Regions from separate parts of the Homo sapiens genome. Here region 2 is linked to region 1. Evidence: fine-mapped expression QTL. A gene starts in region 1. The other region holds a variant in brackets. All regions are shown on one strand. Distances are from middle to middle. Region 1 holds the start of LINC01124 (long intergenic non-protein coding RNA 1124). Region 2 holds the start of GAD1 (glutamate decarboxylase 1).

Region 1 (9,093 bases):
CAAAAATCCTTTTCTGAATCTATAGTTGATCCCAGGGCATGGTTCAGATGGGAGTTTCTGTAACTTTTTAGAGAAAGGTGAGAGTTTCTATAACTTTTCACATTGCTTTAGACATCAAAATGTGTAGTCTTGATCTAATGACTTAGATCTAATGATTTTGATTAAGATTACATATTTAAGTGTATATTAATATTACTGCCTAGCAACTTTATCACTATTGCTTGCAAACTGCCACACCCTTGAAAATGTAACCCAAACTCCTCTTCCCAGGTGAAGAACCATGAAGACTCACATTCTAATTAGTCATTAAATAGTTCCAATATCTCTTATTCTAAGGTATATTGCCACTATGAATCTAATATTCATTTACTACCTTGTCCCAAGTTACAGAATAAAAATGCCATTTCTTAGGAGTATAAAAGTAATTTTCATCTGAATTATGTTGATATTTGTGTTTTACTTCGTATAAGAATTCAAGAACAACCCTCAAAGCTTTTAAGAACTGATCCTTCAGTTTGACTTCAAACAAAAGGCAAAGTAAAAGCAGTTTGTGAACTGTGAAATCCTATCAATTTGTACACACTTCAACTATCATGAAAAGATTATTCGGCTCTATTAAAATTTGGCATTAATGATGCTAGCTTAACATGTTAATAAAATTTAGAACATTTTCTGTTCTTTGCTAATCTTAAATCAAGATTTAACTGCTGATAAAAGTTTCAGTTACAGGTTTAAAAACTCAAATATTAGAAAATATCAAGGAGTTAGACACTTGATAAAACATTTGTAAACTTCAAAACTTCAACTTTTAGAGAAAGGCGAGGCACCTAGACAAAAAATACCCTATTTCCACATTTCCAAACCATGAGTATTCCTGGCTCTTCCCTGAGAAAATCTTAGACTACTTCAATGATTAAAAACATAATAAAATTCAGATACAAAATGGAACTAAACGTCCTGGCCTAGCCAGAAATTCCTGGGTGGTTACTGTGAAATAAGACTTGTTAAGATTTCCATCGCAAGATTAAAAAGAAAACAAGCAAAACAACGCTGGCTATCGTGACGGGACTGAAATACAGGAGTGGCGTCTGGGAAACTATCTTCTTGGTTCTTTCCCAGGCAAAGACCAACCTGAACAAGGGTCCCGTTTCTCTGTACCTCTCCACAAAGTCTCACCTGTGAACAGATCCTGGCGCCTCTAATACCTCTCTTAACACCAGCATAGTTGTGACCTGTCCCGAGAGTACCAACAAATAGAAAGCCACAGGGAATTCGTCAGGTAAAAACAAACTTGGAAGACAAACAGTCTCGGGTGAATCCTAAGGCCGCATGAGAAACTCAAATTGTGATTGGAAAATCTTGCCCTACCTCTTTACCACAAAACGGAATTGCCTGCCTTTGTCCATTCCTGAACCCAACACATTTGCCCAGATCCTTCCAAACCAAAGAAGCCTCCGACACAGGCAGACTATAGGAACCATCAAATTCCCGGGGAAACCCGACCGCTTAGTACAGCCACCCAGAAGAAGAAAAGATCAAATGAGACCGGCTCAACGGGGTCTTCCTGTAGTGACCCCTGAGTTAAAGTATTTATTTTCACGCTGCAACTGCTGATCACTTTACAGAGACATATCATGCTGTAGCTCTGCATGGAGCTGAAGACAAAAGCAACATTTTTATTAATGTTATAATTATTATAATTATCTTTAACAAAGCTATTAAATAACCTGTACAAAGCCCAAACCGGTCCTAGCGAAAACCCGAGCACTGTTTCAAATCTCCCAAGTTCCTTTCTATTCAGTTCAGCAGCATTTCCTATATACAAGGCCAGACCAGGGTGGTCCCCCGAAACTGTAGGTCTCCCTGACGGTGGGAACGGTTTAGAGTTTGGAACCGCCCTGGCGTACGGCAGAGCTCCCAATTACAATCCAAATGCCCCAGCCCCAACCCTACCTCCCCGCTCCTGGGAACTGGGTCCCTATGTCCGAAGGCAGCGGAAGTTGGAAGCCTGGCTCCATTTTGGGAGGCAGGCAACGGAGAGGGTCCGTCTGCTGAGTCTCCCCTCCGCCAGCTGCCCACAGGTCCCCGGATCTCTCGCAGAGGTGCTGGGAAGGGGGTCCACCTCCGGGAGGGCTCACAGGTCCCGCGCGTCCTCCCGCTTAACCCCGGCCTCAGCGACTTTGAGCTTCTTATTCTGGTGAGTCTTGACGTGCTTCGCGAGGTGGTCGCTGCGCATGAAGCGCTTGCCGCACTCGGGACAGGCAAAGCGCTTCTCGCCCGTGTGAGTCCGCAGGTGCCGCTGCAGCTCGTCCGAGCGCGTGAAGCTCTTCCCGCAGAAGAGCCAGTTGCACACGAAGGGTCGCTCGCCCGTGTGCCAGCGCAGGTGCGCCTTCAGGTGCGACGTCTTCCCGTACACCTTGCCGCAGCCCGGCACGTGGCACACGTGCTGCTTCTTCTTCCCCGGCTCCGCCTCGGGGGCGCCGCCCGCCGCCTGGCAGTTGGGACAGCGGCAGCGGCGGCACCTCCTGGCCGTGGCCGCCAGGGGGGCCTTGGTCTGCAGCAGCGCGGCGATCTGGCTCTGGTACTGCGCAAAGTCCGACGGGCCCAACACCAGGCCTCTTTGTAGGGCGGCGGCGGCCGCAGCAGCAGCGGCCGCAGAGGCGGGGAAGCGGGGCGCGTGGGGGGCCCCGGCACAGGCGCCGGAGAGGCCGCTTCCCGGAACCCCGGAGGCCCCCGGCCCGGCGCCCGCCTGCGGGATGCTCCACCACGGGAGGTCGTCGGGGGCCGGGTTGGGTGACAACTGGCGGCAGGTGGGCGGCGGGGGCGGTGGCGGCGGCGGAGGCAGCAGGTTGGAGTAGCCTGGCGGCAGCGCGGCCTGCGCCGCGTAGGGCACGTAGGCGGGCGCGCAGCTGGCGGGCAGAGCCGCCATGCTCGAGGGCAGCATCTTGACCGGCGAGAACTCGTAGGGGTACGAGGGGTCGGCGGGGGGTGTAAGGGGAAGCTCGTGCGCAGCCCCGAAGGACGGCTGCAGGTGCGTCTTCTGCGGCGTCAGCCCCAAGCTGGGATGCGGGGGCGGCAGTGCGCCTGGCGAGTGCGCCGGCATGTCGGCGGTCCACGGGTGGAAGAGCCTGGAGGGTGAGCCCAGCGCGGGGTCGTAGGGCACCTGCAGGAAGTCCGGGGGCGCCGCCGCGCCCGGCTGGCCGATGCGGCTACAGGTGGCGGCCAGCAATGCCAGGGGCGAGTGCTTGCCCAGGTCCGGGGAGGCGCTGGGGGTGCGGTCCTGCATAGGCGGCGAGGGAGGGCGGAGAAGAGACAAAAGGTTAGCTCCAAGCGCGGACTCCGGGCCAGCCCGCCGCCCCCACGCCCGCTATTATACCGCCGCCCCTCCTCCGTCCCGGCCGTCCCTCCCCCGCCACCGCACCCCACGCACGCACCCACCGGCCGAGGGAAACTTTTGGTGCCTGCGCTACCTGAACGTGGGGCCCGCGAGCGCTTCTTGCTAAACTACTTGGTGCACTGAGACGCCATCCAGCCTTAGAGGAAGCAGGCGCGAAGTGGGAGGGGGAGGCATCCGACGGGCCCCTCCCGGCTCCGTGGTCAGTAAGAGTCGGGAAACACCCACAACCCCGCCGGCCGGCCGCTCTCCCTCCCATCTTTTAAGCTCTCTTGTCCTCACTGCCTTCGCGCTCCTCCCTGGCCCGCCCCAGGCTGAAATCAGCAGGAGGGCCCAGCAGGGTGAGCTCCGGTCCTGTTCTCGGCCAGCCGGGCACCTCCGAACAATCCCGGATCCACGCGTCCCTCCAGCAAAGGCCACACCGGATTAGGTGTGAAGTTGGCGTGGGCACCCCTAGGCCTGGCTCCAGCTGCACCCATCGGCGGGGTTCCCTTTGAGGTTCAAGGTGCACGGAGTACCAGGAGAGATCCGGACACGGCCCTTTCCACCTTTCTCCCGCCCCCTCCGGGCTCGGCCCTGACCTGGAGAAAGGCCTGCAGCGAGTCGTTCCGGAGGACGGCCACCGCGGCCATGGCTACGGCTTGCAGGCCCCTGGCTGCGGAGCGGGACGCCGCCGCCGAGGCATGGACACCCGAAGGCGAGGACGAAGGGCCGCCCAGCCTGCCTCCCTGGCGCCTGCTCTGAGCGCCGGGGCCCTCCCCGCCCTTGCCCCTCGCCGCGCCCCGCTCGCTCGCCCCGCGCGCGGTCTGAGCGCTTCAGGATCACCTCCAAGAATTTGATAAGGACTTTGCTGGGCCGCCAGCCAGTCAGAGGGAAGATTTATGGCTTTGAAGTTTGCCGCTACCCAATCATCAAAGAATAGCGGCTCTTTCAGAAGCGAAAGCAAATCCTTTGAATCCACAAAGCTCCTATGGTGTGTTTGTTGGTCTGGATAAAAGAACTGATTATTAGGGGGGATGGGAAGGGAGGAGATAAAGGCGGGACAATTAATGAAGTAATCACTATGTGGGAAATGTATATACACAAATAATTGGATTTTCCTGATCAAAGGGGGCCTTGCCGCCTGGAGACCCGCGCTTGGGTTGCTCGAGACACTCTTCCCGCCCCCCCCAACATACACACACACACACACACACACACTTGCAATTAAAGATTTGCACCGACGCAGCGCCCAAAGTGACAAAGTGTCTTTGTTATCTCTGGAAAAATCTGCCTTCGGCTTCCAGGCGCCGGACTTTGAGACGGCAAAGAGTGTAACTCTCCCCTGTATTTACTTGCACACCCTGCACCCTCGCCGCACACGCACCCGCCCGCGCACACAGCGGACCCAAGCGAGATCCCCGGTGGGGCGTGGGACCGACAGCGCCCGGCCCGCCGCGTGTCCCCCGCCCGCCGCGGTGGGGCCGAGGGCAGGGCTGTGACCTGGGGCGGGGCCGGGCGGCCGCCCAGCGCGGCGTTGGGTGGCGCGCACGCTCCAGGGCCGCCCGCCTGACGAGCGACCGGGGCTCTCCTGTGACGTTCCTGCTGGCGACCTGGAAGTTTTCCTCAGGCCACAACTTTTGCAGAGTGGACCTGGGAAAAACACCCGCGCCGCGCATACCCTCAAAGCTGAGCTCGGCAGGACACCCAAGGCGACCCGTCATGCCCACCCGAGGGGAAGAAGCTGTGCTGTCCCGCCCCCTTCTCCCCAGGCCACCCAGGAGGCCCGGGCTGGGCTGTGGGGGGCCGAAAGCCCCAGCGCTGCTGGTGATTTCTCGCCCGGAGCCCCGCCAAGCCAGCGCGCCCTCTCGCAAGCCTGGCAGACCAGGAGCTACTGGAAAAAAGGCGCGGTCGAGGAAGCCTGGTTGTTGTGGTCCCACAAACCACAAATCATACGAGAGAGGATCCCGAAGGCGGGAGAAAAGTCAGTACAGACTTGTTCCTGCCACCTTTGGAAAGAAAAAGTTCCTCACCAGGCGCGGGGCGTGCTTTGCTCTGGGCAGGGTCGCGCTTGCAGGGGCTTGGGTGACCCCCATCCCTCCCTGGCGGCTCACCTCCTGCCGAGGAGGGCCACCTGCCTCCTCCTGGCCCAGGGCGCAGGGCGCGTCCTGCCCCGGCACTGCGGACGCGGGGATCGCCTCTCCCGGGCGCGCGGGCGGGGAAGGAGGAAGAGGCGGGCGGGGAACCGCGGGGTGCTCACCGCCCTGGGGCATTAGGGGTGCGGAACCGCGTTGGAGGCCTCGCGGCCCCGGCTCGCGAGAGCGCACTGCGGAGTGGCCGCCGGAGCTCGGCCTACTCCTCTCCCCCACCCACCTCCCGTCGGACACAGTCTCCACTCTCCAGGCCGCCGGCCGTGGGGGAGCCCCTAATCAGTTCGCGCCCGGCCTCTCTGCCCGTCTTCCTCACGGGAACCGCACTGCGACCGGGACGGACGGGGTGACCTATCTCCCGATGCAGCGTCAGAGGTTAGCCTAACTACAACGGACTCGGAATCTGGACTGTATAAGGATGCCCTCCGCACTTCCATCAGGGGTCGGGGATGCGATGCCTCCGGGCCCACCTTCTCCCACGCCCAGGGCGCGCCTGCGGAATGAGAATATCGTACTCAAGACGGGTGGGCTGCTTGCGACCCAAATACAATGGGTCCCTCGCACATCCTGCACTCGCACGCCCCCTTCTCCCCCAACGAGTTGTCCCCTCTAAAACGCGAGCGGCGACCACACAACTTGGCCGACCCGATCTGGCTTCTGAAGATGAGGTCGGCTGCTCTGGGAGCGGAGAAGGGGAGAGAGCTTAGTGGTTTCATCCGAGGCCTGGCCAACCTGCTCCTTCCCACGCTCCCGTCCAGGATTTGAGTCTTGGAGAAGCGTGAGACTCGAGGGAGCTCTTCCCTGGATGCAAGTCGGAGGCCAGGGAGCCCCTTGGCACACACTCGCGCCTGCACATGCTTGCACCCTCGAAGCGATCTGGTTCCTTAGCGCTGGTTTCCTTTCCAGCTTCTTTGAGATCTTCGAAGTCCCCTTTCCCAGGGAGGCGGGCAGGGCCGGGCTAAGCAGGATGGAAGGCAGCCCTTTTTATTGAATCTGATAGCTACTTTCCCAAAAAGGCCAGAAAAGCCATTTCACATCCCCATAGTTATGGGAATTAGCTTTTTCTCCAAGATGCCCCCATTAGCCAGTTAAACCATCAGTGGGCCAACAGGGTCAAAGTTAGTGGCTTGGTGGTTGAAAGCTCGGAGTCCGAACTCTCTGAAGACATTTTTCCCGCCTTGCCACTTTCTAGTTGGTGACCTTGGCAAGCAAGGTACTCAGCCGCTGTGTACCTCAGTTTTGCGGTTTGTAAAATGGGAGTTACAATAGTGCACCCCTTGTAGAGTGGCTATAGGTTTAAGAGTTAATATACGCAAGGTCTTTAGGACGGTGCTGAGCGTACAGAAGGCCCTCTCTTGAGTGGTCGCAGTTGGCTGCTCTCGGCCTCATCTCCGTTTGTGAAAACCCGTCCAGATTCCGGTCCTCCCAGGCCCCAGCTGAAGTTTGGAGAGAGGCTTTGCTGAATAGCTGTTTAGTCTCCCCCAACCCCCTTGGCCCTCGGAGCTCCTGGAAAAAGTTCTTAATGAAGTAATGTTGAGAGCGTCCATTAAAAATGCAATGCTGGGAGATCAAAGTACAATATTTATTTTAGAAATTTGTTGTAATCACCAAGAGATACAGGTATCAAGGCCAAATGTCAGTTCCATTACACAAAGCCCCGCGCCCGGGAAGAGCGTGTGGCTGCTCTGCCATAATGTAAAGAGACATCAAAGACCGAGCGCGCTGCAAAAGTGCGCAGCTGTGGGGGAGAGAGTAAGCCCGGGAGGGCCAGGCGCGCCCCAGACAGCGCGGGGGCTGCGGGGGCGGGGGTCAGTTCAAAGAGGTATCCGTTGGGGCGCGAGTTCACAGGAGGGAAGATTTAATGGGCTTTCTTTTGTTGGTGGGTGTGTTTGCGCACGGTGGACCCAGGAACTCCTATGTGGTCCTCCTGCCTCGGGGCGGAGATGGGGGTGGGGTGGGAGCTGCGAATGTGGAGCAAACTTTAACCGTGGCGGGGGGCGGGGAGGTTGAATACCAGTCTCCTGGCGGCGGCTGGCACAGCGGAGCTGCTCTCCAAGCAGCGGGGTTCCCAGGCTGGGAAGTTTGCATTGCCGTTTCTTTGCGGGCGGGCGGCGAGCGCCGACTGCATGCCACCTGCGAGAGGAAGAGGCCGGTAGGTGAACCCGCAGTGACACTTGCGCAGGGGACGGACCAGCTCTGCGCGCTCTGGGATTAAGTCAGGGGTTGCTACTTCCAGCCCAAGCTTGGTACCTCGCCTCGGGCATTTTCTTGCAGCTAGAAGGGACGCATGCCTCTGGCATAAATCCAACCAGAGAGTCACCCCTCTCAAGCTAGATTTTTTAAAAATCTAGATATTATTTAGATCATTTCAGCAAATTCTTAATGCTTTGGCCTTTCACAGTAAGATGTTGCTTAATCGGCTGGATCTCCCCACTCCTTGCCAAGGAGACTCAATTTTGCAGTTGCCCATATCTGCCTAGTTAAATCGTTGCTATACTAAAGGTTCTGGGAGGGTGGGGACAGAATTTCCCCGGTGCTAATGCGGCACTGAATCGCAGGAGGCTGCCCATGCATTTCTTCAGTCATCTACAACCAAGAATTCTCAGAGCAGTCCCTCGGCAGCCTTTTGAAGCTGTGCTAGAGCAGAAAGCTGCTATTGTTCTCATCTCTCAACAAGGAAAGGTTCAAACTTTGCCTCTTCAATTTGAAAGATTTTTTTTTTATGGTGGTGGGGGGAGGGATTGCAATCTGATACTCAAAGTTAACTTTGAGGATTTGGAGTGGTCTCCCAGTTTAAGCTGCAGATCAAATCACAGATGCCCTAACGCCTGCATCTCAAGTCGGGGGCACTTCATCATTAATACGGTGGAGTAGTCAATCACAAGCAATTACAACGTGGGTAACCTAGCCTGGTGACCGAGCTAGTTTACTTTCCAAGGAAGTGGGACCATTTCCTCAACTGGAATCCTTGAATTAATTTTAAACTTAAACTTCCAAATTGGATCAGTATACAATACTGGTTGTAGAACTAGGAGGAATTTTTAAAAATCTCATCTAATTCTCCCTCATTTGGTGGGAGGAGGAAACAGCATTTGTATGATATGTATCCTGCCTGCACAATGCTGTGAGCTTCAGTAGATGCTCAATAAATGCTCATTGATGTTGGGTGGTAGAGTGGAATTGTGTGTACCAATGTCATCAGCGTATGACTGGTGCCACAGAGCACACAAATGTAGTAGGAAGTCAGAGAGGATTGGTGAGGACTGGGGTGGTCAAAGGAGGCTTTATCAAGGAGCTGGGGTTTGGAGGAGACTTTAAGGACCTACAGAATTTTAACTTTAGTTAATTTTAGTGCAAAGAAAGGAAGAAGGTGAAGGGGAAAGGGACAGTAGAAGAAAGAGAATTCCACTTCAGTGAAAAGTTGAACAACGATGAAGTTTTGGGTCTTTGATCTGTTGGTGTGGACATGGTGGGGCCAGATTAGAGAAGTCAGAACACGGAGTTTGCCCCCATGCTGTATACATTATAGTAGGAACTTCTTCTGAGCAGGTAAATAACGTGAGTTCAATT
Region 2 (9,093 bases), 99 kb before region 1:
GCGCAGGGGTGGGGGCAGCGGAGGAGACGTGCGCGCTAGCTCCGGTACTGGGGCGCAGGGAGCGTAGCCCTGGGCCGCTCTCGAGTCTGGCGGTGCATCGGCGCGACCTGGAGTGAAGCGCCGAGACGAGGCGGGGTCGGGGTCGGGGTGGGGGTCCAAGGCCAGTACAAGACGCAAGGGTGTGGGGGACTAGGCTAGGAGCACAGGGGAGCGCTCAGTGAGCGATTTTCCAGCCGAGCCGCTACAAGCCCCATTGGGCACTCAGCAGCCGGCGTGTGGGCCAGCGGGGGGAGGGCGCACGGGGCGGGCATGTCTGGTTCGGTGTCTGGTTCCCGTTGTTGTGTCTGGCTAATTCCCTGGAAAGAAAGAGGCTAACTGCTCCGGGGACTAGGGACTTTGGTGAGACAAGGTGAGAGGGGGAAAAAGGCCCATATCTTTACGTTCTCCCTCGGACTTGGCCAGAGAAGAACCACAGTCACCTTGCACTCCAGACAGCCAGAAAGCAGCGAGTCGGAATGTTGCTTGCCTCCCTCTTATCCCAGCCGGTTTTTAGCCATCGCTAAGCCTAGGGCGAGGTTTCGGTCCGGTTTCAGCGTTTCTCCTCTACCTAGCCCCCTGAGGACCCCAGATTTCTCGCGGTACAGATCCAGAGAGGGTGGGGTAAGTAAGCATGGGGAACGTCACCGGGGAAACGAACTTGCGCGCAGCGCGCAGGAGGCGGCGGACAAAGATCTTGCGCGGCGCCCCTGCTCGACTCTCGGCGCTGGCGCGATGGCGCCCGAAGGCCCCGGGACAGAGAGATTGCGGGCTAATCTGGGTAGATCGAGGACCCCACAGAGAAGGGCCCACCGGCCATCGCCTCCACACCCTCCCTCCGACCTCACTCCTAGCCCCGCGCGCGCAGTCGCACAGCAACTCGGGCAGCGGGTCGACTACGGCCCCTGGAAAAGTAACAGGTTACCGTTCCTAGTAGCGCCTTCGGCTGCTGCTGCCCAGGCGCCCTTTGGAGGGACAGGCGCTCGCAGCATGGAAGCTCAAGGGAAAATCGCTCTTGCCCCACTTCAACTAGAGCCTCAGCCTCCGTGCTTCCCCGGGGCGTGAATCCGGAGGGCAGGGATAAGAAGAGTGACGAGGGAGGCGGGGGGGGGGGGGTCCCTGCGCAGCGCACCCGTGGAGAGCAGGGACTAGGGCGGGCAGGAAGCACTCATTTCGGGAGGTTGGGTGGCCGGCGCTGGGATGGGGTTGGTTGAGAAGCCGCGGGAGGAGAGGACCTGGCTGAAAAGCCACGGTTGGGCGCTGGGAAGTCCAGGTGGTCGCTAGCTTACCCACCTCGGCTCTGCGACAGCGAGCCGGGCACTCCCGCCTTTCCTCTGCACAGCGCCCAGCGATCCGCTCGGCTCGGCCCTGACAGGCGTAATCTGCCCGGCGTCACCTCCAGCTGCTTCCTCGTTCTCGCTAGTTCCCTCTCGCACGCGAGCGCCAGGAGAAGAGAGAGATTCGGAGAGGCGGCTGCACGGCTCCGGGGTAGGCGGGGGCAGAGTGGGGAGGCGGGGACCGGATCGGCGGGGAAATCACGAGGCCGTTGCTCGCGGGGGCAGCTAGTCGGCGGAGCGGCGGGGCTCCTCTGCAGGTGCCTGACCGCCTCTGGAGCTTTATAGGGCGATTATAAATCCAGCTCACGGTTTTGCGCCCGGAAGGAAAAAAAAAAGGTCTTATGAGTAATCCAGAACGTACTCAACACGCTTTTTTTTTTTCCTTTGGAAATAGGCAGGCTGTCGGGTGAGAGGAGGGAAAAGATAATTCCTACGAAGAATTCTGCCTTTCTGAGCGTTTCTTCTTCCCTCCCCTCCTTTCCCCTCTCCCATTTCCCCTCCCCCTCCCATATATTGTAGGAGACGAGCGGCGGTTTTGCCTCAGTGCTTTTCCCCGGGGTTCCCCCAGATCTGTGACCCTGCGACGCTTCCTTGAGCGAAAGCGCGCTTTGGGTCGTGTCCTCGTTGGCTCTCTACGGAGCTGGGATTGTTGTAACCGCAAAGGAGGCAGAAATGAGGGGAGACCTCTTAGACCATGGAGGAATTACAGTTTCCTCATCCAGCCCTGGGCCCCATCAAAGTACCACACCTGGCCACAGCTACCCAGTGCCACCGGCAGAGAAAAGGACCCCGCGTCCCTTTTGCTATGCGCTCGCTCCTCGCTTTGGCCCCCTTGGTGATGGGAAAAGAAGGCCTCCTGATTAATCACGTTTGAAGGTTGATGACACGCACGAGCGCCGCTGCACGCGCATGGGGCACCCGAGCACAGAGGTGCCCGGAAGGGGCGGACCAGCCCCCCTTGCCCTGGCCCGCTCCCCCTTCGATTTCACGCGCTTTAAGGATTCTCCCTTTGCAATATTTAGGCGTAGTTAAAAGAACCGCTGCGTTGGGAGAAGCCCCTCGCCGTAAAAATGCGTTGAAAGAGAAATTCCCACCAGAGGGCGCCAAGAGCCCAGAGACGGAGAGGCCCTGCGCTCCCGGGTCTCTCCGCCAGCGCCCGAGCGGAGCCCACACCTGGAGCTGCTGGCCAGACGGTTACGCGCCGGCTTGCCTCTTCATGCCTTCCCTCACCGCCCTGTCACTAGTTTAAGTTCTCCCCTTTCTTCTCCCCCAGTTTTTTTCTTTAGGGCAAAAATGTTGATGTCTGTGCGTGTCTGGGTGACACCGTGTAGGCAGTGATTCCTTTACTGGTATTTACCGTGGTCCTCCCCCTCTCCCCAGGTGGTGCAGCACGCAGGGGTTATTTATGCGCACGTCTGGGGCCTCACTGGTTCAGCGGAGGCCCGTCCGTTTTCTTTGAATGCCTTATCGCCTTTCACCACAACACAATGGAAACACACACAAAAATATTATAAATTACCGAGAGTTCCATAAGGGAGATCGAAGGGTCCGCCCTGGGCAGACATGGCCTGATCAGCAAGAGGGATCTCGCTGTGGGGTTTGAAATAATCGCGTTGCCTTTGGTACTAAAGAAACTACTGTTTTGTCGCCTTGTCTCCACCTGACGATGAAATCCCCGGCACTTTTTAAGGACACAAAAAACATCCTAAACGGCGGGGCGCGCGGTGACTGCAGCCCCGGGCACTGAGGCTTGGGGCTGGACAGGCTGGGGGTGTCTGCTCCACGTAGGAAACGTCCCCCCAAACCACTCAACCGGCAGCTGCTCTGCGCTGCTTGAAGTGGGCGGCATACAACCAGGTGAAGCTCGGAATTCCATCCACCGGCCCTCCTAGAGCCTTCCCTAAACGAGACGCTCGCACCAATCAGGGAGCCAGGTGCCAGTGCTAAATCATTCAAGACGCACGGGGCAGGAGACAGGAAGGAGGAGGCAACACATCTCCCGGTGCCCCTCGTTCTTCATTGTCCAGCATAGACGCCCGCTCGCCTCAACCTTTTCCCAAAACCCGTGATTCCCTGGAAAGGAAGATTCGTTTACTTCACCTGTGGCACGAGATTGAGACATTTCCAACCACTTCCTCCTTTGACCCCAGAGTTCAAAACACCCCTAACGTTTTAGCCAATGAAATAATCTCGTTGGAGAAGGAATCTCCTGCAAGGCTAGGTAACGCAAGCTGAAGCTGAGTCCGTCCAGCTTCGAGGACATCCCTCTCTTTCTCCTTTATGGTGAGTAGGGGAGGAATGAAGACTTTTGTCCGTCCTTGTTTAGAATGTTTAATTGAATATTAGCAGTAATTGATTAAACGAATATTTATTAATCCCCTACTATGTGCCAAGCACTTATTTTTTGGAGCTTGCATTGTCCCTGCGGTTTATATTATCCTGCACGCCGGGAGTGGACATTCCGGTGAGGCAGGGAGAGGAGCGCACTTAGAAACTTCATAAATTTGATTTAATTTTCAATGATCTCCTCCAACTCGAACTCTTGGGCACAGCAGGAATGGTAATGAATTGAAGGCCTGGAATTCCACTCCATCCAGATTACTGAGTTTT[G/C]AGGTAGGGCATAGATCTTTCAGCACGAAGGACAGCGCCCGTCCTTCTGGTCCCCATGCCTCTGTTTCGTTTGCTTCCGCCAATAGCTATGGGCCAACCCACCAGACTCGCCCCAGCCCTCCTCCCTCCTGACAGTAACTGCTGTTTGTTTTGCCTAGTTGGGGGGTGAGGTATTTCGCCCACTGCTCTTCTCTCCGGTAGGAATTTGAACTAAGAGTGGCCGTGGTTGTCATTCGGCTCTAAACAACATTTGAAACCTATATTTTTGTTTATGTCTTTCACTCTTCCTTTAATCTTTTATCATTCCTGGGGGAGGATTCTTGGGATAATGGGGGTGGAAAAAAGATATCCTCTCCGGGGACTCGAACCGGTGATGAGGGGTGGCCCGGAAGGGAGTGGTGTCCGCCCAGCTGTTTCGATTGTATTTGAAGCGCTTTGAAGAAATGGGAACGCGGCGCTCAAAGGCAGAAGAAGGAGGGGGCGATATGCGACCCCTCCAGTCTCTCTCCGGCATTAGGGATTTGCGAGCTTGCAGCCCCGGCTACTCCACCCTGTCTGCCGAGGATAACGTTTCCTTAGGTCAACCACCGCTGGGACTTGGGAACACGACCCTCCGCCCACAATGCCCTTTATTCCTTTCCCCGTCGTGGGTGGGTGGGGGATTGTTTAAAGATATTCCAACCGGATTTGGGGCCAAGCCTTTTCTGCAAAGGGAAAAACGGGTGAGTAGGAGGAGCGTGAGGCGTTGAAGGAGCGCCCAAACGGGCTGCGGGGAGATCTTCACGCCTAAAACGTGGTCAGTCAAGGTGAGTAGACAGGACACGTCAATTTTTTTTGACGCAATTAGAATTTTTAGCCTCCAGGAAACGTAATTTAGAGCCATGGTATTGGTTCGTTTCAGCTGGCTCCTTAAAATCTATTTTAAGTGTCTAATTTATGACCAGAAAGGAAAAAAAAAATGGCAGTGCTCACCGGTTAAACGTCTGTCTCCCGAGACGAGAACTGGGGGAAGCGTTACTTAACCTTTCATTCTGCTTAAGTCGGAGCTAAGGTCCATTTGCTGTTTTTGTACTTTAAAGATAGTTCCCTGAATTATTCTGGACTTTTTTGAAGGATCATAGCTAAATCCACACCCCCATCCCAACAGACCACACAACACTCACAGCTGGGAGGCAGGAAAATGTTAAAAGGGTGAGAGGGGGTGGGAGGGGTGACAGCAGAATGCTGGAAGGCTGGAGAGGACTCTAGGAATTACAGCCACTTTTTCTAAAGAAGAGAGCTGGATTCTTCGGATAACTGGCAAATGGTCCTTCCCCCTTGATAGTCAGAAGATGAAAATATTCTAATACAAATAAATGAATCAAGGAGGACAGGGTGATTTGTGTTTGGGCAAATCTCCTTGTGCAAATCTTGAAACGTCCAATTCTTGCTATTCTAAACTCGAAGACAGAATGACCACCAGGTGGCAATAGATTACAATTTCTGAGAAGAAACAACAGGCCTCCCAAGGGAGCAGTTCTTCAAGGAAGAATGCAGGCTCATACTCATCCCTGCCAAATTTCACAAAGCAGGGCCTTTTCAAATGGTCAGAAGTGCTCTGGAAGTGACCTGAAACACCTAGGGTAGTGCGTCTCTTTGGTGAAAGACTAGGGGGTGCATGGCATCTGTTTTTTTCCCACCTAGCTGTGTCTCAAATGTAGTGAACCTGTGAATATTAGGCAAGAAACTGATTCACTGCAAAACTGGAAACCAAGGAAATACAGTTCTGGATTGTAATTCTGATGGGGAGCTTTAAAGGTATATCTGTGTCTTCTGATCTCAACAAAAACCAAGGCGAAATCAGTCCTTCCCCAAAAGGGTGGGATGCAAAAAGGAGGATTTCCCACCTGAGATGCTTTAGTGAAATACAGAATTCATGGGAGACTGAGGAGAGTAATATTTTATTCATTTCTTTTAGTGTAAAAGCTCTTGGACTACTTAAAATAACAGATATTTAGTCCCCATTTTCAAACATAGGTATCTGGGACTGTTGTTTGTGAAAAGGTTCTGGAAAGTTCTGACTTAGTTGTGGCGAATCTAATAACTTAAACTTCTATTCCAGGCCAGGTTTCTTCCCCTAATCCTGACCAGTTACTCAGGGGAGGAAACTGGAACTTTAACAGAAGGGGTGCATGATTGATTGCCGTTCCCATTAGGCCCCACCTTCAACATTGGGGGTCACATTTCAGCACGAGATTAGAGAGGACAAACATCCAAACTATATCAAATATTGTGACAATAGCTGACGAATACACTCTCCTATACCAAGAAGGGCAACGGGGACTGTGTGCGGTGGTTCACGCCTGTAATCCCTGCACTTTAGGAGGCCGAGGCAGGCAGATCTCTTGAGGCCAGGAGTTCGAGACTAGCCTGGGCAACATGGAGAAACCCAATCTCTATTAAACATACAAAAATTAGCCAGTTATGGTGCTGCACGACCTGGAATCCCAGCTACTTGGGAGTCTGAGGCACGAGAATCATGTGAAGTCGGGAGGCAGAGGTTGCAGGGAGCCAAGATCGTGCCACTGCACTCCAGCCTGAGCAACAGAGTGAGACTCTTGCCTCAAAAAAAAAAAAAAAAAAAAAAAAAGCCAACGCAGGCGCAAGGTGGAACTCAGGGTAAAGTCTGACATAGGCTGCCCAGAATTGCTTACTGTGGGCCCAGTCTGGCCAACAGTGGTGGTGCTGGGGTCTGTGGGGGACATTAGAGAACTCTCTCTATATATCTCGGTCTCTCTTGCGGTCTCTCTCTCTTTAGCAACACGACTAATAATTATCCTCATAGAGGAAGGAAATAAGTCTCAGGGAAATTGTGTGGTGTGTTTATTGTATGAATTCTCAGTTAATTATCACCTGAGGTCTTCTGTTTTCTTGATGAGGAAACTTAAGTCCAGAGAGGCTACAGGACTTCCCAGACCACATGCTTAGTGCGCAGGGGGCTGGAAATGCTTTCTTCTTCTCTCAGTCCCAGCGCCTTATGCTTGTTCAGTGAAGCCTTCTGGCTCTGTCACATAATAATCATTTGACCTTGGAAAAATCACAGAATCTCTCCAGACCCCCATAATGGGAGGGTTTGGGTACAAGATAAGACCAGATGAGGTTTCATTCATCTGAAACAATTTATTATTACAGGTATTTTGTGATTCTTCTCACTGGCAACTCTTCTCATGTTGTAAATACCATGGACTCAAGAACCTCTTGAGGCCCTCAAGGCAGCTTTTACTGGGAGAAAAGCAAAAATGTTGAAGTCAGTCTGACTTGAGTTTACATCTAGATTCTACTTATCGGCTATTGTTTGACTGCTCCAAGTTTACTTCTAAGTAAAATGGGGGTTAATATCAGCCTTGTGGGCTATCTTATTTGATGCTCATAGAACCCATTTTAGGCCGGGCGTGGTGGCTCACGCCTGTAATTCCCAGCACTTTGGGAGGCTGAGGCAGGCAAATCACCTGAGGTCAGGAGTTCGAGATCAGCCTGGCCAACGTGGTGAAACCCCCGTCTCTACTAAAAATAAAAAAATTAGCCAGGCATTGTTGCGCACGCCTGTGATCCCAGCTACTCAGGAGGCTGAGGCAGAATTGCTTGAACCTGGGAGGCAGAGGTTGCAGTGAGCTGAGATTGCCCACTGCACTCCAGCCTGGGCAACAGAGCAAGACTCAGTCTCAAAAAAAAGAGAACCCATTTTAGCAAGCTCAAGTGTGCCTAGTTAATGGTGTTCAATACATGTTTAATAGCTGCTTCTGCTCCTTCCCCTTAGTTCAACAGTGATTTTGAACAAATTAAATTTGTTCTCCTTGGATGTATAAGCTAAGCATAATATTTGTATTATTTTGCCAATTTCTTTTAGTAGAGCTACTGATCATTCCCGGACATAGGACTCAAAGCCCTCCTCTTTAGTGCCTTAGAGGTTTTTATTAGTCCACAAAGATAGTTTGATTTGTAGAGAAAGTTTTCTGATGGAGTATTCAGACTCTCTTAGGAAAGGGAGAGAGGGAGCCAGTTTTGTGATGAGGTGACATTTATACATAATTATGGATTTCTGCTGGGATTCAATCTTTTGATCGTTTCAATTTTCCTACCTTCATTCTCTCCCTCTGTAATCTCATCCAATCTGGCAGTTTTAAATATCTTAATTTTTATTTCAATTAAAATAAAAAAATTTAGATGTTATTGACTCCCAAATTTATATCTTTACCCTGAACCTCTGTTCAGCATTCCAGGTTGATATGTCCAGTTGAATTTTCCACTTGGATTTTTTTTTTTCTTTTTTCTTTTTTTTCTTTTGAGGTGGAGTCTCGCTCTGTCGCCCAGTTGGAGTGCAGTGGCGTGATCTCGGCTCACTGCAACCTCTGCCCCCTGGGTTCAAGCAATTCTCCTTCCTCAGCCTCTCTCGTAGCTGGGATTACAGGCATGTGCTACCACGCCCGGCTAATTTTTGTGTTTTTAGTAGAGACAGGGTTTTGCTATGTTGGCCAGTCTGGTCTCGAACCCCTGACCTCAGGTGATCCACCTGCCTTGGCTGCCCAAAGTGCTGGGATTACAAGCATGAGCCACCACACCTGGCCATCCACTTGGATTTCTAATAGGCATCTGAAACTTAAGGTGTCCCAAATTGAACTCCTGATACTTTTTTCCAAACCTGCTGCTATTACAGTTTTCTCCATCTCTGTAAATAACTAGAGGCAATTCCACCTTCCAGTTGGTCTGGTCCAAAACCTTGGAGTTATCACTGACTTCTTCCTTACAATCTGTCAGTAAATTCTGGTGGAGCTACTTTCAAACTTTAACAACTTCACTCTCTATTTCTGCTCTTACTATCCCTTGTTTCCTTCCCTAACACACACAATGTAAAATACTAGGTCATACTCATATCATGGCTTTCCTCTACTCAAAACCCTCTAATGATTCCGCATCTCAGAGGAAAAGACAAAGTCTTTATAATACTGACAAAGCCCTACACGGTCTGACCTTGTTACCTGTTTGAGTTCTTCTTATACTGCTCTGCCCCATCCTCACTCCACCCTAGGGACAATGGCCTCCTTGCTGTTTCATAAACATGAAGTAGAATGGG

Evidence for each region.
Region 2: its variant is fine-mapped to the expression of LINC01124 in tibial artery (GTEx, PIP 0.95).

Annotation. Positions count from the first base shown.
Region 1 is chr2:170,710,446-170,719,538 of GRCh38, reverse strand. It overlaps LINC01124 (long intergenic non-protein coding RNA 1124), which reads left to right and starts at 4,972. Exons shown (of 1, transcript NR_027433.1): 1 at 4,972-7,100. SP5 (Sp5 transcription factor) reads right to left here and starts at 4,202. Exons shown (of 2, transcript NM_001003845.3): 1 at 3,976-4,202; 2 at 1,461-3,280. The coding sequence starts at 4,026. The coding sequence ends at 2,135. All of the region lies in intron 5 of ERICH2-DT (ERICH2 divergent transcript), which reads left to right. It overlaps LOC100130256 (a long non-coding RNA gene), which reads left to right and starts at 7,532. Exons shown (of 10, transcript NR_187629.1): 1 at 7,532-7,675. RefSeq lists enhancers at 2,251-3,040, 3,041-3,828, 3,829-4,618 and a silencer at 4,836-4,885.
Region 2 is chr2:170,809,285-170,818,377 of GRCh38, reverse strand. It overlaps GAD1 (glutamate decarboxylase 1), which reads right to left and starts at 1,491. Exons shown (of 17, transcript NM_000817.3): 1 at 1,330-1,491. GAD1-AS1 (GAD1 antisense RNA 1) reads left to right here. Exons shown (of 4, transcript NR_197761.1): 2 at 463-660; 3 at 1,346-1,524; 4 at 1,893-3,755. RefSeq lists enhancers at 1-100, 1,340-1,509 and a silencer at 1,597-1,676. The variant G/C (reference allele first, on the strand shown) is at 3,984.